5 linked regions of the Homo sapiens genome follow. The protein of the gene in region 1 purifies or fractionates together with the protein of each later gene. This does not show direct contact. Each region holds a gene or a part of one and is shown in the gene's direction. Other genes may lie near its edges.

Region 1 (4,894 bases):
AAACATCATTCTATTTTCTGTTTTTAAGGATGTAACTATTTTACATATTCCATGTAAGTAGATTCATACAGTATTTTTGTGTGTGTGGCTGGCTTACTAATTTAGCATGTTGTCTTCAAAATTTGTCTTTATAATAGATATTAGAAGATTTCCTGCTTTTAAAAAGCTGATTAATATTCCCTTTTTTATATTTTAAATTATATTTATCGATTAATTTGGTAAGGAAAGTTTAAATTGCTTTTACCTATTGGCTTTTGTGGATAATGCTTCAATATGGTGTACAAATAACTCACTTGACCATATATTCAAGAGTTTATATCTGTGCTGCATTGTGTTTCATTACTTTGGTGTTCTACATTTATACCAGTACCAAAGTGCTTTGATTGATGTAGTTTTGTTTTGTGTTTGGAAATTGTTAAGCATAATGCTTCCAATATTTTTCTTCTTTTTAAAGATTGTCAGGCTTTTCATGTTACCTTGAGATCTTATGTAATTTTGTGGGTTTTTTTTTTCTTTTTGGAAAAGTAAAATTTATTTTATTATTTATTTATTTATTTATTTATTTTTGAGATGGAGTCTCGCTCTGTCACCCAGGCTGGAGTGCAGTGGCGCGATCTCGGCTCACTGCAAGCTCTGCCTCCCTGGTTCACACCATTCTTCTGCCGACGCCTCCAGAGTAGCTGGGGCTATAGTTGCTCGCCACCGCGCCTGGCTAATTTTTTTTTTTCTAGTAGAGACGGGGTTTCACCATGTTAGCCAGGATGGTCTCGATCTCCTGATCTCATGATCTGCCCGCCTCGGCCTCCCAAAGTGCTGGGATTACAGGCGTGAACCACTGTGCCCGGCCAGGAAAAGTAAAATTGAAAATTGAAAAGGGTGTGTTGAATGTGTGGGTCACTTTAAGCAGCATGGACATCTTCACAATGTTATGTCTTCCAACCCTTGAAAAAGAGCATGCTCAAAAGTGTGTTGTTGGTTGGGTGCGGTGGCTCATGCCTGTCATCCCAGCACTTTGGGAGGCCGAGGTGGGCACATCATAAGGTAAGGAGATCGAGACCATCCTGGCCAACATGGTGAAACCTTGTCTCTACTAAAATACAAAAAATTAGCTGGGCGTGGTGGTGCATGTCTGTAGTCCCAGCTACTCAGGAGAGGAGGCTGAGGCAGGGGAATCACATGAACCCAGGAGGTGGAGGTTGCAGTGAGCCGAGATCGTGCCACTGCACTCCAGCCTGGTGACAGAGCAATACTCCATCTTAAAAAAAAAAAAAAAAAAAAGGTGTGTTGTTTAATTTTTATGTTTTTTGAATTTTTCAGCTTTTCTTCTGTTACTGATTTCTAGTTTCATTCCATTTGGACCATAAATAATTGTCCGTAAAATTTCAATTAAAAAAATTGTTAAGACTTGTTTTGTGGTGTCACAGGTCATCCATCTAGGAAAATGTTTCATGAGCTATTGAAAAGAATGTGTATTCTGCTGTCTGTATACATTTGTTAGGTGTAATTATTTTATAGTACATTCAAGTTTTTTGTTCCCTCATTGATATTCTGTCTTGCTTTATGTATTAGTGAAAGTGGGATGTTGATGTTTCCTTCCATTATTATATTGCTGTCTATTTTTGCTTCAGTTCCGTCAATGTTTGCTTTATGTGTTTGGGAAAACTGTCTTGTATTTATAGGTTCTCAGTGAATGAACCCTCTTATTATAATTGAATGTCCTACTTTGTCTCTTGTGAATTTTGACTTAAAGTAAATTATATGAAATATGACCATTTTCAACTTAATAAATTGTTGCCTCTTCTCTCATTTGGTTAACACTTGCATAAAATGTATTTTTCATCCTGCCATTTTGTCTTTTTTTTTTATTAGATCTAAAGTGAATCTCTTGAAGACATGATATAGTTAGATCTTGATGTAGATCTTGATATATGTCATGATATAGTTAGATTTTTTTTTTCATTTTGGAAGATACTTTTGCTGGATATAGTATTCTTGCTTAGACTTTTTTTTTTTCCAGTGCTTTAACTATGTCATCCTGTTCCCTTCTTGCCTGAAAGATTTATGTTCTTAAATTTACTCGTAATCTTGCAGAAGCATGCATATAAATAACACGTCTCTTTCTTCTTCCTGAATTCCAGATTCTCTTCTTGTCTGCGACTTTTAAAACATTGCTTGTGTTATGTCTTGTTAGAAATCTCTTTGTGTTATCTTAGTTGAAGTTTGCTGAGCTTCTTGATTTTCTTATATTTTTTACTAATGTTGAAGTGCATATTAGTCTTTTTTTGTAGTTCTACTACACAATTTTTATTTCTTTCTGTGCTTTTTATCTTTTTGTTGGTTTCATTTTTGTTATTTCATTTTGTTTTTTTAATTTCCATTTTACTCATTGAGCATCATTGAGATGTAATTTTGATTTTCTAGGGTAATTTATTTTTTTCTTTTAAAAAATAGATCAAGACTTTAATTCAAATTGTCTCACATAATTTTTACATCTCCTTTTTTTAATAATTGATTTCTGGATATTCTTTTTTTTCTTTGAGCCATATTATCTTGATGTTTTGTTTATGTTGTAATGTTGCAATTTGTATAATAAAAAGCCACATGTCAAAATCTGTATTAAGTGACTTTTGTCTGAGGGAATATGATACCAATTTTTTAGGCTAGGGAGTCTTGGAGTCTCTCAAGCCTGTTCTATGGATGTTTTCTCTGAGCTTGTGTGTTTTTTAGTTAAAAAATGTTCGCCTTTTTTTTTTTTTTTTTTTTTTTTGAGTGTTACTCTTGTTGCCCAGACTGGAGTGCAATGTTACAAGCTTGGCTCATTGCAACCTCCACCTCCTGAGTTCAAGCGATTCTCCTTTCTTCTGCCTCAGCCTCCCAAGTAGCTGGGATTACAGGCACCTGCCACCACGCCCTGCTAATTTTTGTATTTTTAGTTGAGACAAGGTTTCACCATGTTGGCCTGTCTGGTCTTGAACATCTGACCTCAGGTGGTCCGCCTGCCTCAGCCTCCCAAAGTGCTGGGATTACAGGTGTGAGCCACCACTCCTGGCCATTCCCTATGTTTCTTATTGAGATCCCTTAGTCACTTGCTATACCCATTGTCTGTCTATGATACTGAAGTCTTTCTTCTCTTGTAACAGTCATTTACCTTTGGTCTCAGCTGTCCGAAACTGTCAGTGCATACCACCTTTCCTTTCAACACTGTCATGGAATATAGAAATTAGTCTTTGGTAAGGTCTCAATAAGCCAGAAGCATGGACACATGTGCCACTATTTTATTTATTTTTGGAGGGGGTAGACAGGAGTTTGGAGTCTATAGTTAGAGTCATCATAGGATGAAGAATGGCTGTGGTGGGTAAATATGAAATACTTTTATTACACTTCTATGTGGTTCTTGGCGTTTTGCTCACTTGGTGTGCCGCAAATGCTTAACTGGTTCTTAGACTTCTCACAAAGGCATTTTGGTCAGTATATTTCTGTTAGGTTTATATGTCTATAAGAATATAGAGCCTGTGGTATTTTATTATCGTTTTATTAATTGCTTTGTATAATTATATATTTGTGAAGTATATTCACCTGAGTCTAATGAGGGAGAATTTTATTTTTTTTCTCCAGCTGGTTCTTTTCATTTTACTGCAGAGATATTGCCGGATCATGACATAAAAGATTCATTTCAAAAAGTGATTCTGAGAAAATATGGAAGCTGTGACCTTAATAATTTACATTTAAAGAAAGACTACCAAAGTGTGGGTAATTGCAAGGGGCAGAAAAGCAGTTATAATGGCCTTCATCAATGTTTGTCAGCTACCCATAGCAAAACCTGTCAATGTAATAAATGTGGCAGAGGTTTTCAGTTGTGCTCAATCTTCACTGAACATAAAGACATTTTTAGCAGAGAGAAATGCCACAAATGTGAAGAATGTGGCAAAGACTGTAGGTTGTTCTCAGATTTTACTAGACATAAGAAAATTCATACTGTAGAGAGATGCTACAAATGTGAAGAATGTGGCAAAGCGTTTAAAAAGTTTTCAAACCTTACTGAACATAAGAGAGTTCATACTGGAGAGAAACCTTACAAATGTGAAGGATGTGGCAAAACTTTTACCTGCTCCTCAACCCTTGTTAAACACAAGAGAAATCATACTGGAGACAGACCCTACAAATGTGAAGAATGTGGCAAAGCCTTTAAGTGCTTCTCAGACCTTACTAATCATAAGAGAATTCATACTGGAGAGAAACCCTACAAATGTGAAGAATGTAACAAAGCCTATAGGTGGTTCTCAGACCTTGCTAAACATAAGATAATTCATACTGGAGACAAACCCTACACATGTAATGAATGTGGAAAAGCTTTTAAGTGGTTCTCGGCCCTTAGTAAACATAAGAGAATTCATACTGGAGAGAAACCCTACATCTGTGAAGAATGTGGCAAAGCCTTTACCCGCTCCTCAACCCTTTTTAACCACAAGAGAATTCATATGGAAGAGAGACCTTACAAATGTGAAGAATGCAGCAAAACCTTTAAGTGCTTCTCAGACCTGACTAATCATAAGAGAATTCACACTGGAGAGAAACCCTACAAATGTGAAGAATGTGGCAAAGCATCGAGCTGGTTCTCACACCTCATCAGACATAAGAGAATTCATACTAGAGAGAAGCTCCACAAGTGTTAAAAATGTGGAAAAGCCTTTACCAAGTCCTCATACTGTGTTCAACATCTGAAATTTAATACTGAACAAATGCAGTATAAATGTAATGACAGTGGAAGAACATTTATCATCTTAGAGGGTCTCTAAGAACTTACTTTATAATCTGGTTGCTTATATGTTGGGTACATATATAGCCCTTTGCTATTATGTAATGCCCTTTTTTTTTAAATCTATGTTAATTTCAA
Region 2 (4,894 bases), on another chromosome or scaffold:
TAGTATTCCTCAAACTTGAATAGCCTATACCCATTTGTTACGTTTTTTTTTTTTTCTCATTTTAGAATATCTCTGAAGATGTGATTTTTTCTGTGATGTGTTATAAAGATGAGGATGAAGAGCTGTGGCAAGAAGATCCATATGAGTATATAAGGATGAAATTTGGTAATTGAGATGGTTTTATTTCTCATCAGTTCCTGGATATGTAAAGTAATATAACTAAATTTATATTTTTAAGCAAATGTTATTACTTTATTAAATCTCCCAGGTTCTGTTTTGCATGACATAATCTGAAACTTTGAGAGTTTGATGTTATTTTGTTGAACTAGAGAACTGGAGATTGTCGGATGTGGGAGATGAAAAGCCACCTCATTCATCTCTCTTACGGGTGCTCAAGTTGAGCCATCTGTTACTTATGCTGTTGCGATGCTGATCTGCAGGGACCATCCGTTTTTGTGCCTTTTGGGAGACTCATTTATAGATTGGGTTGTTCTCATGTGGGAAATACTTTGGATTTCTGCATATTTTAGGGGTACCCCAATTTGGTTTGCTTGCTTGTCTGAGAGACTAAGTGTTCCACAAGGGAAATAAATTTCGTATGGGGGCCCTACTGTGTGTGGTCCAATTCTTTGGGTGTCCTTTTAACTTGGATCTTCCTGGAAACTGTTGAATTGTGTAGGTGGCCTGATTTATTCCCTTTTATTCCCAGTTTGTATTAATTGCTTCATGGAACACTCAAGCACTTAACATAGCAAAATATTAATTTGCATACCTATCTCCCACAACTTAGAAGCTTTCTCAGGACAGGAATTTTACCTTATTTGCTTAATTTTGCATTTTCTGTCTCTTCTACACCTCTGCATTCCTCCACTAGTGCTTGGCCTCCAGTATGCCTTCAATACATGTTGAAAGAAATGATTGCTAAATCTAGCGCTGCGTGCTGAAAGTGCTGTAATGAAGCAGTGCTTTCCCCTTAGTTGAGCCAGGTGTGTCTAGCTACGTAAGCTAAACCTACTGGTACAGATGCTAGTTTTTTGGGCTGTGTTTTTACAGAGCTTTGTGTTTATATTATTTGATTCAGTAAGTGAGGATCCTGTTTTCTCTTGGAGACAAAGTATCAGAAAAGCAAATCAATGAGAAACATTTATCATCTGCTTGATTTGTTATTTTTCTTTTGAAAATCATTATTCATATGTGTAACTTATTATTTCCCCTTTCTTATGCCTTTGTTTTTCTAGTTTGCTTTGAGTGATTAGCCAACCATTCTTCTCTCTCTCTCTCTCTCTCTTTTTTTTGTTCCAGTGACTCTCCCACCTCAGCCTCCAAGTAGTTGGGGCCACAGGCATGTGCCACCACACCTGGCTAATTATTTTTTGCAGAGACAGGGTCTCCCTGTATTTCCCAGGCTGGTTTCGAACTCCTGGCTTAAGTGATCCTCTTGCCTTGCAAGGCATTCTTTTAGTGTTTACTTCTTTCATAATACCTATGTGTTTTTGTGATGTACAGAGTATTTGTTTAGCTTTCAGAAAGTTACCATTATTTATATATTCTTCATATCTGATAAGATAGGTATACATACCCTAGTTTTTAGAAAATAAGAACTCTATGTCTGTTGATTAACAGTGGGAATTTACATTTTATTGTTTAAAAGCGGATATGGGTAACTCAAGACTGACTAGCTGAAGTGAGTTTTCTTTAATCGTTTCCTTCTGTAGACTGGAATGCAGTGGCTTTTATTTGATATGTGTATTTTACTTTTGGGTAACCATAGGGAAGAACAATTACTGCATTTTCTTTTTATATGTTTGGCACTTGCAATTATTTACGTGAAACAAAGCATTCCTATCTAAATGTATTGACTGATTAATAATAATGTTTTAGTTTATTCTTTTTATCTACTCTTTAACCAACATCTCCTCACTTCCCCCAATAATGTTTTTTGATTTGGTAAGAACTAACAAGAGCTCAGGCTTTGATGTTAAGATAGCGTGGGTGTGAATGCTGGTTTGGTCACTTACCTGCTGTGTGACTGTGGACAGGTTACTTAACCTCTCTAAAATTCAGTGCTTTCAGCTGTCAAACGGGTGATGATAATAGTGCTGGGAGGATTAAATGGGATAATACACATGAACTAACTGCTTAGCATAGAATACAAGATGCTTCTAAAACTGTAGCATACTGCTTGGCACAGAGTAAGTACAGTACTCCAAAAATGTTCTTATTATGTTTGTATTTTATATTTTGAGGTAGACTTAGATTTGGTTTTATCTTTTGTATTTAAACAAGGACTTATCAGATACCTCTCAAGACTTCAGTTTCTTATGTAAAACTGCCTATTCTGAAACTTGTGAAAATGTTCATGGTATTAAGTGATATGTTAAGTTTTAGATAGGTATATATTCAACAAAACCTGCTGAACTTACGTATCGACAGAGCCAGGCATGGTCCTAGCAGTCCTTCAAGGCTTTTATACTTGCTGTTTCACCTGCTTGGAGTACTTTATCCATGGATTGCTTTCTCCCTCATTTCATTCAATTTCTGCTTAAATGTTACCTTAACAGAGTTGGAGAGGCTTTTGCTAACACCCTATTTAAACTAGCACCCCATACTCTGTCACTCTGTCTCTTTACCCTATTTTACATTTGTTCTTAGCCTGACTTATTATGTGTGTATATATGTATAATGTGTTTCTTTGTTTCACGACATAAGCTCCGTGAGAACCTTTTTGTTTGATCTTTGTATCCCCGGGGTCTAGAATGGTACCTGGCACATAGTAAGAGCTGAGTGAATTTTTGTTGTTTTTTGATAGAAATAAAGCACTTTTTCTGTTCTCAGTGAAACAGATGTGTAAATGCATTGTTTTCTTCAATATAATAGTTTGAAAGGACAACCTGTAGAGTTTGAGGAACATTGTTTTGTGCAGGAGACAGCAATGTTGTGGTGCCACTGTATATCCTTACCTTTTTAGTACTGTCAAGCAGTGTCATATGTGGATGGTTTTATTTTTTTGGTTTGGAATAGCGGTCAGTCAGGTTTAAAATCTAGAATAAGTAATTATATTTTCACTAACATGGTTTTAACCTTTTAAAATCTTAGATATTTTTGAAGATTATGCTTCTCCCACCACAGCAGCCCAGACTCTCTTATATACTGCTGCAAAGAAAAGAAAAGAGGTATTTCATTTTTCTTTTTAAATCCAAAACTGAAAGGTGGCCTGTGTTGAGTTGATACTCTAGTATATCCCTAGTATTTGAGAAATTATGTTGTTATTCGTTATAATTTGTCACCTTAAGGATTTTTTTTTTCCTCTCCTGGTGAGGGGAAAGGGGGTATCATGGTTATTTCGTTTTCTTAATAAATTATACTTTTCTTATTGAGCTTATAGTTGCTTGATAAAACATAATAAAATGGCTTTATTTTTAAAAATTTGTGCATCATAGTTAATACTATAGTAAGACAATGAAAGTTCATGTAGACTAAATGGATTCTTCTGTTTCTTTAGGTGTTGCCAAAAATGATGGCATTCTGTTATCAAATCCTGACAGACCCGAACTTTGACCCTAGGAAGAAAGATGGAGCCCTGCATGTGATTGGTTCCCTAGCTGAGATTTTACTGAAGGTTAAGATAATCAAAATTTAATTTACTTAATAACATTGTAAAGTACAGGCAAATGAGAGAATATGAAAGTTATGGCTAATTTAAAGCTGGTGACTACCTCTGGATAATTGAGTTCACAACTATCCTCCTTTCTGTCATCTATTTCTTTAATTAAAAAGAAAATTTGACTGTTTAAAGTTTTCAGTATGAAACTATTGATATGTGAAAGGGATACAAAGTATCTTATGTCTACAAAATCAATCAATATCAAACTGATATAAGGTAATATTTGTCTTGTTTTAAAACATGCAATATATAGGTCAAATAATTTTACAAAATTAGAAGTATATTAAATGCAAGTCATAGTAAACACACTTGATTAGGAAGTGATTCTTACGTATGAAAAAGAAATTGATAAGTTGAAATTTGTTTCCTAATAGAAGAGTTTATTCAAGGACCAAATGGAGCTGTTTCTACAAAATCATGTATTTCCATTATTATTGTCTAACCTGGGATATCTTCGAGCTAGAGTAAGTTTTTCATATTTCTGTTATGTATCTTAAATCTTCATAAGATAATTATTCAAATAAATGTTTTTTGGATAAATTGACCTTTTGCCACATATTGAGATGAAATAGAGTCAATTAGAATGTCTGCCTATGGTCACATCAGCTGAATAAAGGACAGACTATTAAAGAAAAAGATTTATAGGCTGGGCGCAGTGGCTCATGCCTGTAATCCCAGCACTTTGGGAGGCTGAGGTGGGCGGATCACTTGAGATCGGGAGTTTGAGACCAGCCTGGCCAACATGGTGAAACCCTGTCTCTACAAAAATACAAAAAATTAGCTGGGCTTCATGGCAGGCGCCTGTTATCCCAGCTACTAGGGAGGCTGAGCCAGGAGAATTGCTTGAACCCGGGAGGCGGAGGTTGCGGTGAGCTGAGATCGTGCCACTGCACTCCAGCCTGGACAACAGTGAGACCCTGTCTCAAAAAAAAAGGAAAATATTTATGGATTTTATTTCCTGCTGGTTTTATTTCATTTGTCACCCTAGCCTCACTTGCTGCATATGTAAAACATGAAATGAGAAAGGTGATTTTATAGCAGTGATACAATTTAAATTCACAAATGGATTTATTTTGTGTATAAAATGACATGAAATTCCAGATTGGCTAAGAACTTGAATTTGATTTTCAGTATATTAGGTAGATTTGCCTTAGTAAAATGGAGAGATTAATAATCCATGTGAAATTGTGCTCTATGTGTATATTCTTTTAGAATCAATATATTTTATGG
Region 3 (4,894 bases), on another chromosome or scaffold:
ACCTCAGATGATCTGCCCGCCTTGGCCTCTCAAAGTGCTGGGATTACAGGCATGAGTCACCGTACCCAGCCAAATGGTTTTTTTGTTTTTTGTTTTTTGTTGTTTTTTGAGATGGAGTCTCACTCAGTCACCCAGGCTGGAGTGCAGTGGCGCAATCTCGGCTTACTGCAAGCTCTGCCTCCCGGGTTCACACCATTCTCCTGCCTCAGCCTCCCGAGTAGCTGGGACTACAGGCGCTCACCACCACGCCTGGCTAATTTTTTGTATTTTTAGTAGAGATGGGGTTTCACCATATTAGCCAGGATGATCTCGAGCTCCTGACCTCGTGATCCGCCCGCCTTGGCCTCCCAAAATGCTGGGATTACAGGCATGAGCCACCGCACCCAGCCGCCAAATGGCTTTTTTAAATCGTAAATTACTTTTCTTGATTGAAGTTTTATGCAAAAATTGATCAGGATGATACCTACATGCCAGGTTTTTATATTTGAAACACATAACAAACTGAGCCTTAAAAATTCTGACTAAGCAGACTAGTATATAGGTAAAGAAATATCTAGAAAATGGAGTATTGTGCACAAAGTTTAATTTGGAAATAAATTTGTAAAATAAACTAAAATTAATTTTAGAAACCCTAACTTTGTTTGCTTTGACAATACAATGGAAATTATCAAGTTATAGTTAGAATAGGGGGAGACAAATAATGGTTGTCCTGAAAAGAACCCAAACTCAGACATTAGAGAGTCTTGAGGAGGTTCCATAGTGAATGTTAGGAGCATTATTAGCCTGTGAATCTGATTGGCTGGATTTGAATCCCAGCTCTGGCCACTAGCTGTGTAAGCTGAGATAGTCCCATTGTTGTAAGCCTGAGTGAAAGTGGGGATAATAAATGCAATGCCTGCCACATAAAGTTATGACGTCAAATAGTATACATTTGGTAAAGGCTCACAATTCTTATTATAGTTATTACTATTATTGTTTTACCATTATCATTATCATCATCATTGTTTCTCAAGGCAAAATCTAGCCTCCACCTCTTTATCTGTGTGACCTTGGTCTTTGCTTCTCCAAGATTCAGATTTTCCAGAGCACTGTTACCTCCATCCAGGGTCATTGTGAGGATTAAATGAGAAGTTTATACAGCACCTAGGTCAATGCTTTGTTGATAGTAACTGCTTTTACAGGTTAGCGCAACTAATAAGTCACTAACTCCTCAGCATTATAACATAGGCTTAATAAGTTTAACACCAAGTTCTTTCCTTGGGTGTAAGTTTAGCCTTAAAAGACTTCTAAAGATTTTCCAAAGTTAATGTTCTGTAATTAGCATATATGTAATCAAATAGGACTTTTATGTATATCTCATTCTTTCTTTATAACTTAAATATATATTATCTGGTTACAATTTAACACCCAGTTCTTTCCTTTGGTGTAAGGTTAGCCTTAGAAGACTTTTAAAGATTTTCCAAAGTTAATGTTCTATAATTAGCATATATGTAATCTTATATATTGAACTTTTATGTATATCTATTTCTTTCTTTATAACAAGTATATTTTACCATATCTGTATGTTATTACAAAGTAAATTATCATTATTTTTCAATTAAGAAGAAAACTAAGACTGTAGAACATTGAATGATTTGACCTCCTCAGGTACCTTTTGGTAGGTCTTCTGACTGCAAATGCTGGGTTCCCTCTGTTAAATCATACTACTTCCTGAGAAGAAATAAAAGATAAAGTGGGAAAATTCTGCATCTTAGGCAAGCTAAAGAAAAGTGGTTTAAAAATTATTGCCACTTCAAAAATAACAATGGCAGAATAGAAGGTATCTATTTTTATCACCTCTTGGGATCTTTTTGTGGGGCCAAGGGGAAAGCAGAAAGATACTAAAAGAGATGTTCATGTCCCTTTTTATTCATTTTAATTATTAAAGGGAACAGTGGCTTTGTGATTAATGACTGCTGTTCAGTCTATTTTATATCTTACAAGGATCTGACAGTTTTGTTTTACATTTTATAGCTGCAGCTTATCTTCTGGTGTCCCTTATACCAAGCAATTCATTCCGTCAGATGTTCCGGTCAACAAGGTCTTTGCACATCCCAACCCGTGACCTTCCACTCAGTCCAGACACAACAGTAGTCCTACATCAGGTCTACAACGTGCTCCTTGGTTTGCTCTCAAGAGCCAAACTTTATGTTGATGCTGCTGTTCATGGCACTACAAAGCTAGTGCCCTATTTTAGCTTTATGACTTACTGTTTAATTTCCAAAACTGAGAAGCTGATGTTTTCCACATATTTCATGGATTTGTGGAACCTTTTCCAGCCTAAACTTTCTGAGCCAGCAATAGCTACAAATCACAATAAACAGGCTTTGCTTTCATTTTGGTACAATGTCTGTGCTGACTGTCCAGAGAATATCCGCCTTATTGTTCAGAACCCAGTGGTAACCAAGAACATTGCCTTCAATTACATCCTTGCTGACCATGATGATCAGGATGTGGTGCTTTTTAACCGTGGGATGCTGCCAGCGTACTATGGCATTCTGAGGCTCTGCTGTGAGCAGTCTCCTGCATTCACACGACAACTGGCTTCTCACCAGAACATCCAGTGGGCCTTTAAGAATCTTACACCACATGCCAGCCAATACCCTGGAGTGAGTAAAATTGATACTCTTTTATCTGTATCCTCAAATAGATTGGAAATACCTGTTTTTCCCCTGGTGGGAAGTGGTGGCAGAATATAGAATAGTCTCACCATTCTTTCTTAAGAACTTAATGTGTATTTGTTTTCTTAAATACATATATAAAATGCTGTGTTGTTATAAAATTGATAACTGTGTAGATAACTTTTCTTAGGGTGAAGTTAAAGTTGCATATCCAGTAAAACTTACCTGTTTTTTAATTTGTGGTTTTGTAAATGTATTCTTCATGTGTGCCTAATGAAAAAAGCCAGCTTCATGGTACAGTTTTAAGGAATTGAGTACTTTGCTATTTAAAAATCAGATACTTAGCAAAATCTACATGCTGTGGTAAACTGTGAGCTAGACAATTTTATATCTAAAACTAGTAGTATTCCGCAGTATTTTTTCTCAAGCTGCATCCAAACAAATGAAATGCTTAAGAGATCAATCGAGATACATATATATGCAGTCTAAATTGGGTCCCTTTTACTCTGCACACTTACTTGTAGGTTTTATATTAAGTTTCCTCCCCTCGATGTAAAGCTGTCAAACCTGGTTAATAACTTTTCACTGTTGCCTCTTATTCTCTGTTGTAAACTGTACTTTAAAGACAGACCGTCCTTTATAGACGGTCTTTTTTTTTCTAGATGGTGTAATGAGTTGTATAGAATCTCACACCTGGGAAGAATAACCTAATTTCTAGTCAGAGAAAATTAGAATCCCAGGCCGGCATAGTGGCTCACACCTGTAATTTCAGCACTTTGGAGGCAGAGGCGGATCACTCGAGCCCAGCAGTTCAAGACCAGCCTGGGCAACATGGCAAAACTCCATCTCTACAAAAAATACAAAATTAGCTGGGAGTAGTGGTGTGCACCTATAGTCGCAGCTGCTTGGGAGGCTGAGGTGGGAGGATCGCTTGAGCCCAGGAGGTTGAGGCTGCATTGAGACATTGTACTGCACCCTGGGCAACAAAGCAAGACTCTGTCTCAAAAGAAAAAATCAGAATCCCTACAATGCAGGAAAGAGAGTGAGTGTACAAGTACCAAGAAATTGAAAACCAATGCCATAAGAATACAAAATATCAATCTTTCTGACTTCAAAGGGGTCGGGATAGGATTTATTAAGTTTCAGTAAATTTGTCTCTATCATATTCACATAAATAATATTTGATCTAGTTACTAGATGTGATGTCCAGAATTAAATATACTTTGACAAGTACTAGATGAGTTAGAATTTATCCCTCCATGTTATTTATTGCCCTTGACATCAGTGAAATGTAATGTCTTTTATTGTAGAATGTCCTTATCTATTAGAAATTTTCATGAAAATGGTACTTAAGTCAGTTTTTTGCTTTGAAAAATAAGAAGCTGGGGGTTTCAGTTCATTGACAAGTATGTGTTAGAAGAGCAGTCCTCTCCTGACATGTGCATATGAGTCTATAAAATCACAGCTAGTGATTTTACTAAAATATTTGTTTTTACTTTTTATTCATCAGGAAATTGAACTGAGCATCATTCTAGAAAAGCATTTTAAATGTTGGAACAAAGGTTTACCTCATATACACTATTAATTTAAGGGTTATTTAGGCATTTAAAATCTTTGTGACAAAGTAATGATTTCTCATTAATTAAAGAAAAAGTGGATAGGAGATGGTGTGGCATGCCTCTGGGTTTACATTTGAAGTTACAAAAGTAGTGCTTTAAGCAGTAATAAGACTAAAAATGAATTGTATTCACTTACAGTTTTTACTCTTTCTAAACTTGTATTTTAAGATTTGTTGAGTTCTTTTAGTGTTTATTATTATTGTTATTATTTGTATTTTAGTAGAGACAGAGTTTCATCATGTTGCCCTGGCTGGTCTCGAACTCCTGAGTTCAGGCAATCTGCCCGCCTCTGCCTCCCAAAGTGCTAGGCATCAGCCACTGCGCCCAGCCAAAATTTTTTAAATAGAATTTGTTACTGATTTTATAACTTTCTGAATGGAAGTATAATCTAGCTTATTTGTATAATTTTAAGAGTTGATTAATGAACGTAGAAATGAGAAACTGACCTTCTAAAATGCTATAGGGTTAAAAGATCATATGGCTTATTTGGCTTTTTTAGGCAGTAGAAGAACTGTTTAACCTGATGCAGCTGTTTATAGCTCAGAGGCCAGATATGAGAGAAGAAGAATTAGAAGATATTAAACAGTTCAAGAAAACAACCATAAGTTGTTACTT
Region 4 (4,894 bases), on another chromosome or scaffold:
ACGGCTATTTGGATTGCTGTTAAGGTTATTACATTCTCTGTGTAGTAAGACCTTGAAGGAGAAGGATTTGAGATCAGGAGTTTAAGAAAAAATGTTAATCTAGGAAGAGAGGATAATTTCTGTGTTTGGCCAGTTGCAATGGCTCACGCCTGTAATCCCAGCGTTTTGGGAGGCCGAGCTGGGCAGATCACTTGAGCTCAGGAGTTTGAGAAGAGCCTGGGCAACATGGTGAAGCCCCGTCTCTACTGAAAATACAAAAATTGGCTGGGCGTGGTGGCAGGTGCCCACTGTAATTTCAGCCACTCAGGAGACTGAGGCAGGAGAATTGCTTGAACCTGGAAAGTGGAGGATATGGTGAGCCTAGATCGCGCCACTCTACTCCAGCCTGGGAGACTCCATCTCAAAAAAAAAAGAAAACAAGATGCTGAAATGAAGTAATTACCACAGTCAATGTGATCCTATAACTTTGTTTTGTTTTAGAGATGGGGTCTCCCTCTGTCACCCAGGCTGGAGTGCAGTGGTGCATCATAGCTTTCTGCAGCCTCCACCTCCTGGGCTCAGGTGGTCCTCTTGCCTCAGTGTTCCGAGTAGTTAGGACTGACTGCAGGTGCATGCTGCTATGCCTGGCTAACTTTAAAATTTTTTTGTAGAGGCGGGGTCTTGCTATGTTGCCTAGGCTGGTCTCCAACTCCTGATCTCAATCAGTCCTCCTGCCTACCTTCCCAGAGCGCTGGGATTACAGGTGTGAGCCATCGCACCTAGCCAATCTCATAACATTTTATGACTAGCAAACTTAGTAGTTCTGATTCAGGCATAAATCAGTTGGTGGGGTTATACAAGGTTGGGTGAGTTTTTCTAGATTTCTAAGAGACCATGTTGAAATACTTGGCTCTGTCTCAGTAAGGGATAGAGAGAAGCAAAGGTGTGGGTAAAGGTTATGAGCAGACATGTAAAGGGGGCAAATTAAAGTGTTTAGGGAAGGTGAAACAGTTCCAAATCATAATATAGATCCCAAGCCTCACCAAGAAGTGAAGGAGAGGGTAATTGTGCGATAGTTCTCAGGACTGAGACCTCAAGGTGTAAGACGAATCTTTATTGTGGGTGGTCCTCTTTGAGAAAAAGAACAAAAAAGAAAAATGTGAAATGGGTGCTAAATTTCAGAGCAGAATATACATATATGTGTATGTGTGTGTGTATATATATATATATTTTTATGTAGCAAATTCCAGTTTACAAAGGGCTTTTATGTGTTTTGCATCATTACAACAGTTCTGTGATGATGTGGATGTGGTGGATATTGTAATTCCACATCACAGAGGATAAAATTGAGGCACACCATAAGGTAGCTGACCAGAGATCATGCAGTATATGGTAGAATGGCAACTTGAGGCCAGTTCTTAGGTGTGTTTGTTGTCCTTATTCAGAATGGAACAATGTGGTTTATTGTACAAAAATTTAAAAATGAATGTCGAAAAGTAGAAATTATTACCCAAATCTCACCCTCTGTGGTTGTTTGCTATGTGATCTTCCAGACTCACATATACATGTAGATAATTTTTTTTTTTTTTTTTTGAGACGGAGTCTTGCTCTGTCGCCCTGGCTGGAGTGCAGTGGCGCAATCTCGGCTCACTGCAGGCTCTGCCTCCTGGGTTCACGCCATTCTCCTGCCTCAGCCTCCCAAGTAGCTGGGACTACAGGCGCCCACCATCACCTCCAGCTAATTTTTTGTATTTTTAGTAGAGACGGGGTTTCACCATGTTAGCCAGGATGGTCTCGATCTCCTGACCTCATGATCCGCCTGCCTGGGCCTCCCAAAGTGCTGGGATTACAGGAGTGAGCCACTGTGGCCGTCCTCACATGTAGATACTTTTTTAACTTTTTGCTTTTAACCACTTAAGATATTGTGAACTCATTTCCAAATTAACATATATTTGCTTTTAACAGCTACATTTCCACTGGAGTTACGTACCATTTGTAATCTATTCCTGGAAATTTAGATGGTTACAACTGTTTTTTATTTTATTTATTTATTTATTTAGAGACGGAGTCTGACTCTGTCACCCAGGCTGGAGCGCAGTGGTGTGATCTTGGCTCACTGCAACTTCCACCTCCGGGGTTCAAGTGATTCTCCTGCCTCACCCTTCCGAGTAGCTGGGACTACGGGCGCACACCACCACGCCTGGCTAATTTTTGTATTTTTAGTAGAGACGGGGTTTCACCATGTTGGCCAGGATGGTATTGATCTCTTGACTTCATGATCTGCCGGCCTTAGCCTCCCAAAGTGCTGGGATTACAGGTGTGAGCCACCACGCCTGGCCTCAACTGTTTTTTATTATAAATAATGCTGTAGGCCGGGCGCGGTGGCTCACTTATGTAATCCCAGCACTTTGGGAGACTGAGGCGGGTGGATCCCGAGATCAGGAGATCGAGACCATTCTGGCTAACAAGGTGAAACCCCGTCTCTACTAAAAATACAAAAAATTAGCCGGGTGTGGTGGTGGGTGCCTGTAGTCCCAGCTACTTGGGAGGCTGAGGCAGGAGAATGGCGTGAACCTGGGAGGCGAAGCTTGCAGTGAGCAGAGATCGCACCACTGCCCTCCAGGCTGGGCGACAGAGCGAGACTCCGTCTCAAAAAATAATAATAAATAAATAAATAAATAAAGCTGTGTACAGCCTGGCCAACACTTTGGGAGGCCGAGGCAGGCAGATCACAAGGTCAGGAGTTCGAGACCAGCCTGACCAACATGGTGAAACCCCATCTCTACTAAAAATACAAAAGTTAGCCGGGCATGGTGGCACATGCCTGTAATCTCAGCTATTCAGCAGGCGGAGGCAGGAGAATCGCTTGAACCCACGAGGCGGAGGTTGCAGTGAGCCAAGATCGCGCCACTGCACTCCAGCTTGGGTGACAGGGCGAGACTCTGTCTCAAAAAAAAAAAGAAGAAAAAATCCTTTATTCTGGTTTTCCCGTAGCTTCCACAGATCCAAAAGGGTCAGGTTTATTTCCAGTAGCCAAATATTCTGCCATCTGGACTGAGATATCTCCTAGGTTGAGGTTATTATAGAGGTAGTAACCTGATTCTTTCTTCCTTTTCTCCTTCCCCTTTCCTCCTTTGCCTCCCTCCTCTTTTCTTCCTCTGTATTTATTTTATCATTCCTTCTTCCTTTCTTATTTCTAGGCCATATAGGCCAGCCAGGGAAAGGTTAGTAAGGGGTGACATTGATCCCTATGACCTGAGGAATATTCTTCGACCTTGAGACATGCCGATTATGCTCTTCTTTTCCTAGGATGCTCACAACTGTATTCCTGAGCTGGACAGTGAGACAGCCATGTTTTCTGTCTACGATGGACATGGAGGTAACTTTAACAGATCATATTGGTAACATTCTAGGACCCCAATTCCAGACGTTCCAGGGCAAGAACAGGTCCCTTTGTTCATTTACTTTCCAGGGTCTGGCCCTCATTATCATTTCCTGCGTGGTGCTGTTTTTCTGTATTCTGTCATTCTTTTTTCCCAGTAGGTACTGTATTGGTTTATAATCTCACCAGGACTTGTTTTAATCCAAAGAGCCTCTATCTTTTTTTATTTTTATTTTTTAAAATTTTTAGGCTGGGCACGCGGTAGGTCACACCTGTAATCCCGGCACAGTGGATCACGAGGTCAGGAGTTCGAGACCAGCCTGACCAATATGGTGAAACCCCATCTCTACTAAAAATACAAAAATTAGCTGGGCGTAGTGGTGGGCGCCTGTGGTCCCAGCTGCTCGGAAGGCTGAGGCAGGAGAATCGCTTGAACCTGGGAGGTGGAGGTTGCAGTGAGCCAAGACCATGCCACTGCACTCCAGCCTGGGCAACAGAGCAAGACTCTTGTCTTAAAAAACAAAAAAGTGTACCCAGTTGAGCTGATTCTTTATCTTTTTTTCACTGGAGAACTAAGTATACAGGTGAGAAAAGACGAGATATTTATACCCGAGAGAATTGATGGTGAAATCCATTTTTTTGGATCAGAACTTCCCCAAACAGTGTCCTTCAAATAGGGTTCAGGGGTGCTAAGATATTTATCCCCTCAACCCTTGGGGTTCACTCCAGTATGGCATATAAATATTGTATCACTTTCTATGTGTGGGGAGCAGTGCTCCAGGTGACCTTCCTTCCTTTCCTTCTAGGGGAGGAAGTTGCCTTGTACTGTGCCAAATATCTTCCTGATATCATCAAAGATCAGAAGGCCTACAAGGAAGGCAAGCTACAGAAGGTCTGTCTGCTTACACCGCCCATTCCTCACTTGTGTAGGCTTTTCCCTTGTTCTCTAGCCCTTGGGCTTTTCCTTTCTTTTTGTCCTCTAGCTGCTGCTGCTTATTTACTCTTGAAGAATTCTGTTCCTAAAACGAGCTTATTGGCCGCCTTTTAGACTTGCCTTATTATTCCTAGGCCTCTGAGCTGTTTTTATCTGTGAGTGTCTCTTAGTGTGGTGGCTCACACTCTTAATTTGTATTCCATCCTTGTGCTCAGGATTGTATATAGGGAGTTCATTTTGTACTAGTCTTAGACTATTTTGCTTATATTCAGGCTTTAGAAGATGCCTTCTTGGCTATTGACGCCAAATTGACCACTGAAGAAGTCATTAAAGAGCTGGCACAGATTGCAGGGCGACCCACTGAGGATGAAGATGAAAAAGAAAAAGTAGCTGATGAAGATGATGGTGAGTGTGGCATCCCTTGTTTGAGGGGAAATCAGCATTTTAAGAAATATTCTTTAATATTACTTATCAATTCTAAGATAGGATGGCTTTCTAGGGACCTGGGGAGTCCTTATGTTAAAGAAACCTATGATGTTCTCCTGCATTGTATGTGGTTATGAAAAGGAGGGAGAGAATTATCTTCGTTGAGTGGCATC
Region 5 (4,894 bases), on another chromosome or scaffold:
ATAATACTTCCTGAAAATCTGAAATTCATTTATTCCTCAAATAGACATTACATGTCTAGTATATGCACTAACATCTTGTAGTAGAAACCTGGGGTATTTCACAAGCTAGTTTTTGGAAGATAAACAAATGATCAAAATAGTATTCAATGCCTTTTTTACTTAACCATTAAACTACTGTTTTGGAATACTGTCAAACAGTGAACACCGCTAATCTGTCAAAGAAAATTTGTTACATGGCCTTTATTTTTGTAATCCTTAACTATTTACATTTCATACATTTCTTTCAATTATAACACCTAGATTTTTAAATATTCTTCCTAAGGTAAATTTTCTATTAGTATATTTACTTTCATTCCATTTTAATACACTACTTCTCCCTCTCCCTTCTTCCATTTAAATATTTTTTGCTTTGACTTTCTTGTGGCAGAACATTGATTTGGGAGACAGATCTCAGACAAGTCTTGAATATTGTTAAGAATGAGGAAGTAACATTTCTGAAAGGCTCTTGCTTTGGAGAAGATAGAAGAACGAATTATTCTATGATGTCTCTCATTCCAGTGAAGCTGTGTTTTGGTTCATTTAGAACCAAAGAATAAGATCATTGACATTTGAATGAATCTCTTCACAAAGTGAAATAATCACTGACTCAATGTAAAATTTGTAAATGTTATTAAAGTGTTTATAGTATAGACAGTTTCGAAACAAAATAGCCCTTCTGCCTCAGAGTCTTTGCACTTAACTCCTTGGAACTCCTTTCACATAGTTATCCCCCTAACTTGTTCTCTCATTTCCTTCCATCCCTGTTCAAATGTCTCCTTATCACTGAGGAGTTCCTTGACCATCATACTCCCTATCTCCTTTCACTTGTTTTTCTCTATAGCACTGATTTGTCATACATATTTGGCTTACTTTTAAAATTAATTTTATTTGGCCAGGCACGGTGGCTCACGCCTGTAATCCCAGCATTTTGTGAGGCTGAGGCGGACTGATCACTTGAGGTTGGGAGTTTGAGACCAGCCTGACCAACATGGAGAAACCCCATCTCTACTAAGAATACAAAATTAGCTGGGCGCGGTGGCGCATGCTTGTAATCCCAGCTACTCAGGAGGCTGAGGCAGAAGAATCGCTTGAACCTGGGAGGCGGAGGTTGCGGTGAGCTGAGATCGTGCCACTGCACTCCAGCCTGGGCAACAGAGTGAGACTCCATCTCAAAAAAATTAATTAATTAATTAAATTTAAAACATTGGCTGGGCATGGTGGCTCATGCCTGGAATTCCAGCACTTTGGGAGTCCGAGGCGGGCGGATCACCTGAGGTTGGGAGTTCGAGACCAGCCTGACCAACATGGAGAAACCCCGTCTCTACTAAAAATACAAAATTAGCTGGGCGTGGTGGCGCATGCCTGTAATCCCAGCTACTAGGGAGGCTGAGGCAGGAGAATCGCTTGAACCCGGGAGGTGGAGGTTGCGGTGAGCCGAGATCGTACCATTGCACTCCAGCCTGAGCAACAAGAGCGAAACTGCGTCTCAAAAAATAAAAATAAAAATAAATAAATAAATAAATTTTTTTTTTTTTGAGACGGAGTCTTGCTCTTGTTGCCCAGGCTGGAGTGCAGTGGCGCAATATGAGCCCACCGCAACTTCTGCCTCCTGGGTTCAAGCAATTCTCCTGCCTCAGCCTCCCAAGTAGCTGGGATTACAGGCGTTTGCCACCACACCTGGCTAATTCTGTATTTTTAGCAGAGATGGGGTTTTACCATGTTGGCCAGGCTGGTCTCCAACTCCTGACCTTGTGATCCGCCCACCTCGGCCTCCCAAAGTGCTGGGATTACAGGAATGAGCCACCATGCCCAGCCTATTTATTTATATTTATTTTTTGAGACAGGGTCTTGCTCCATCACCCAGGCTGGAGTGCAGTGGCACCATCATGGCTCACTGCAGCCTCTCCCTCTCGGGCTCAAGCAACACTCCCACTTCAGCCTCCCAGGTAGCTGAGACTACGGGGATGTGCCACTATGCCCAATTAATTTTTGTATTTTTTGTAGAGACAAGGTTTCACCGTGTTGCCCAGGCTTATTTTTAATTTTTTCAGAGCTAAGGCCTTGCTATGTTACCCAGGCTGGAGTGCAGTGGGCTCCACTGCACTACATAGTACACTACAGCCTAGAACTCTTGGCCTCAAGCAGCGTCCTCCCATCTGAGCCTCCCAGGTGGCTGGGACTGCAGACACGTGCTACCACGCCTGGCCTAATTTTACTTAACTTTTCTTCTCCCCACTATAATTTTAAGTTTCTTGAGGTCATGAATTGTTATTTTTTGTTATTGTTATTCCTTGATTTCCCAGTAATAGGCTTTATGACTGACTTCCTGTTATAATATTAATAAATAACAGTATAGGCTTTAGCTCTTTTATTTATTTTTTAAAATTTATTATTATTATTATTAGTATTTTTGTGGCAGGTTCTCACTCGGTTGCCCAGGCTAGAGTGCGGTGGCATGATCTTGGCTCACTGTAGCCTCCAATCCCAGGTTCAAGCGATTCTCAGTCCTCAGCCTCTTGAGTAACTGAGACTACAGGTGCCACCACATCTGGCCAATTTTTGTATTTTTAGTAGAGACGGGGTTTCGCCACATTGCCCAGGCTGGTCTCGAACTCCTGACCTTAAGTGATCCACTCACCTTGGCCTCCCAAAGTGCTGAGATTACAGGCATGAGCCACCACACCAGCCGGTGTTTTTAAATATAATGCCAGGAAGATTTTTATTAAATACTCATTCCGAAGGATAATTCCCAGTCTGGTTCATGTAACAGCAAATGTCTGTGTGCTAGGCACTGAGCTAAGTAGTTAGATGCAGAGAAATTTATGATCACTGCCTTTCTAGAGCTCCATAATCACCACGTCACTGGCCCATACAATACATGTGGTCAGTACTATAATAAAGCTACATGTAAGTTTTGGATGACGAAACTATTAGATCTGATTTTGGCTAAGGTGGATATGATCTCCGCATCAATAGTCTTTCCCCTGTTATATTCGCAGTCAAGAAAAATGCTGTAAGTGGAATTAGAGGGTTTACCCAGGAGACATTTAAACTCTTAGTTCCTAAGCTCAATATGGTATATAATGGTTATATATGTATATACACCTTTTTTTTTTTTTGAGTGGAGTTTCGCTCTTTTTGCCCAGGCTAGAGTGCATTGGTGCCATCCGGCTCACTGCAACCTCCATCTCCCGGGTTCAGGCAATTCTGCCTCAGCCTCCCGAGTAGCTGGGATTAAAGGAATGCACCACCACACACGGCTAATTTTTGTGTTTTTAGTAGAGACGGGGTTTCACCATGTTGGCCAGCCTGGTCTTGAACTCCTCACTGCAGGTGATTGCCCACCTCAGCCTCCCAAAGTCTTGGGATTACAGGCGTGAGCCACTGCGCCTGGCCTAATTTTATATTTTTAGTAGAGACGGGGTTTCGCCATGTTGGCCAGGCTGGTCTCGAACTCCTGACCTCAGGTGATCCGTCCGTCTTGGCCTCCCAAAGTGCTGGGATTACAGGCCTGAGCCACCGTGCCCGGCCTAATGGTTTTATATGTACAGGCAGCAGTGCTACTTTCTCACTTGCTTTATATGAAAAAGTGATCTTGCTTTTGGTAAGTTTCTTGATATTTTGTGTGTGTGTGTGTTTTTTTTTTTTTAACTCACACTACCCTGGATCACTTTTGGGATTGTCACAAAAGGTTAACTATTACTGCTGTATGTGATATACCTTACTTATAAATGGTTCATTTGATTCCATTTTATTAAAAGTATTTAATGAAAATCTTAGGTCTGGAAAAGTGTAAAATAATGGCATATTTGTAAGATAATTTGGAATGTTTAGAAATTAAGCAAAATATTTTAGGAAGACCAGAGTAGCCTGTAGTTTAGATAACATTCCTTCACCAGGAATATTTTGAAGTACTGTTCTGAATTTGGGAGAAGGAAAGTCCCTGGATACTTCGGCTGTTAGATAGCAAGTTATTCAATGATATAGCTTGTTAAAGATCTGAAAGAGTTTGGGCGCAGTGGCTCACGCCTGTAATCCCAGCACTTTGGGAGGTAAAAGCAGGAAGAGGATCGCTCGTCCAGGAGTTTGAGACCAGCCTGGGCAACATACAAAAAAAATTTTTTTTTTTAGCCAGAGCCTCGCTCTGTCACCCAGGCTGGAATGCAGTGGCGCAGTCTTGGTTCACTGCAACCTCTGCCTTCTGGGTTCAAGCAATTCTCCTGCCTCAGCCTCCCGAGTAGCTGGGACTGCAGGCGCCCGCCACCACTCCTGGCTAATTTTTGTATTTTTGGTAGAGATGGGGTTTCACCTTGTTGGCCAGGCTGGTCTTGAACTCCTGACCTCAGGTGATCCACCCGCCTCTGCCTCCCAAAGTGTTGGGATTACAGGCATGAATCACAGCGCCCGGCTGCTAAATGATTTCTAATAAAAAAGTTTTTTTTTAAAGTTCCTAGTTGGAGGTCAGATGCGGTGGCTCACGCCTGTAATCCAGCACTTTGGGAGGCCGAGGTGGGCGGATCACAAGGTCGGGAGTTCGAGACAAGCCTGATCAACATAGTGAAACCCCGTCTCTACTGAAAATATGAAAAATTAGCCGGGTGTGGTGGTGGGTGCCTGTAATCCCAGCTACTTGGGAGACTGAGGCAGGAGAATCACTTGAACCCGGGAGGCGGAGGTGCAGTGAGCCAAGATCACGTCATTGCATTCCAGCCCGGGCAACAGTGCAAGACTCTGCCTCAAAAAAAGAAAAATAAAATAAAAGTTCTGGCCGGGCATGGTGGCTCACGCCTGTAATCCCAGCACTTTGGGAGGCTGAGGTGGGTGGATCATGAGGTCAGGAGATCGAGACCATCCT

Evidence for each region.
Region 2: the proteins of ZNF736 (region 1) and IPO8 purify together in Homo sapiens (co-immunoprecipitation; one large-scale study listed by IntAct). This does not show direct contact.
Region 3: the proteins of ZNF736 (region 1) and USP34 purify together in Homo sapiens (co-immunoprecipitation; one large-scale study listed by IntAct). This does not show direct contact.
Region 4: the proteins of ZNF736 (region 1) and PPM1G purify together in Homo sapiens (co-immunoprecipitation; one large-scale study listed by IntAct). This does not show direct contact.
Region 5: the proteins of ZNF736 (region 1) and IPO7 purify together in Homo sapiens (co-immunoprecipitation; one large-scale study listed by IntAct). This does not show direct contact.

Annotation. Positions count from the first base shown.
Region 1 is NC_000007.14:64,344,475-64,349,368, forward strand, and holds part of ZNF736 (zinc finger protein 736), read left to right. Parts: intron 1-3,615; coding exon 3,616-4,673; 3' UTR 4,674-4,894. UniProt on the Homo sapiens protein: May be involved in transcriptional regulation.
Region 2 is NC_000012.12:30,664,454-30,669,347, reverse strand, and holds part of IPO8 (importin-8), read left to right. Parts: intron 1-65; coding exon 66-165; intron 166-3,096; coding exon 3,097-3,173; intron 3,174-3,502; coding exon 3,503-3,619; intron 3,620-4,038; coding exon 4,039-4,128; intron 4,129-4,894. UniProt on the Homo sapiens protein: Involved in nuclear protein import, either by acting as autonomous nuclear transport receptor or as an adapter-like protein in association with the importin-beta subunit KPNB1.
Region 3 is NC_000002.12:61,211,814-61,216,707, reverse strand, and holds part of USP34 (ubiquitin carboxyl-terminal hydrolase 34), read left to right. Parts: intron 1-2,013; coding exon 2,014-2,648; intron 2,649-4,778; coding exon 4,779-4,894. UniProt on the Homo sapiens protein: Ubiquitin hydrolase that can remove conjugated ubiquitin from AXIN1 and AXIN2, thereby acting as a regulator of Wnt signaling pathway.
Region 4 is NC_000002.12:27,385,553-27,390,446, reverse strand, and holds part of PPM1G (protein phosphatase 1G), read left to right. Parts: intron 1-3,288; coding exon 3,289-3,358; intron 3,359-4,167; coding exon 4,168-4,253; intron 4,254-4,567; coding exon 4,568-4,700; intron 4,701-4,894.
Region 5 is NC_000011.10:9,386,621-9,391,514, forward strand, and holds part of IPO7 (importin-7), read left to right. Parts: intron 1-4,894. UniProt on the Homo sapiens protein: Functions in nuclear protein import, either by acting as autonomous nuclear transport receptor or as an adapter-like protein in association with the importin-beta subunit KPNB1.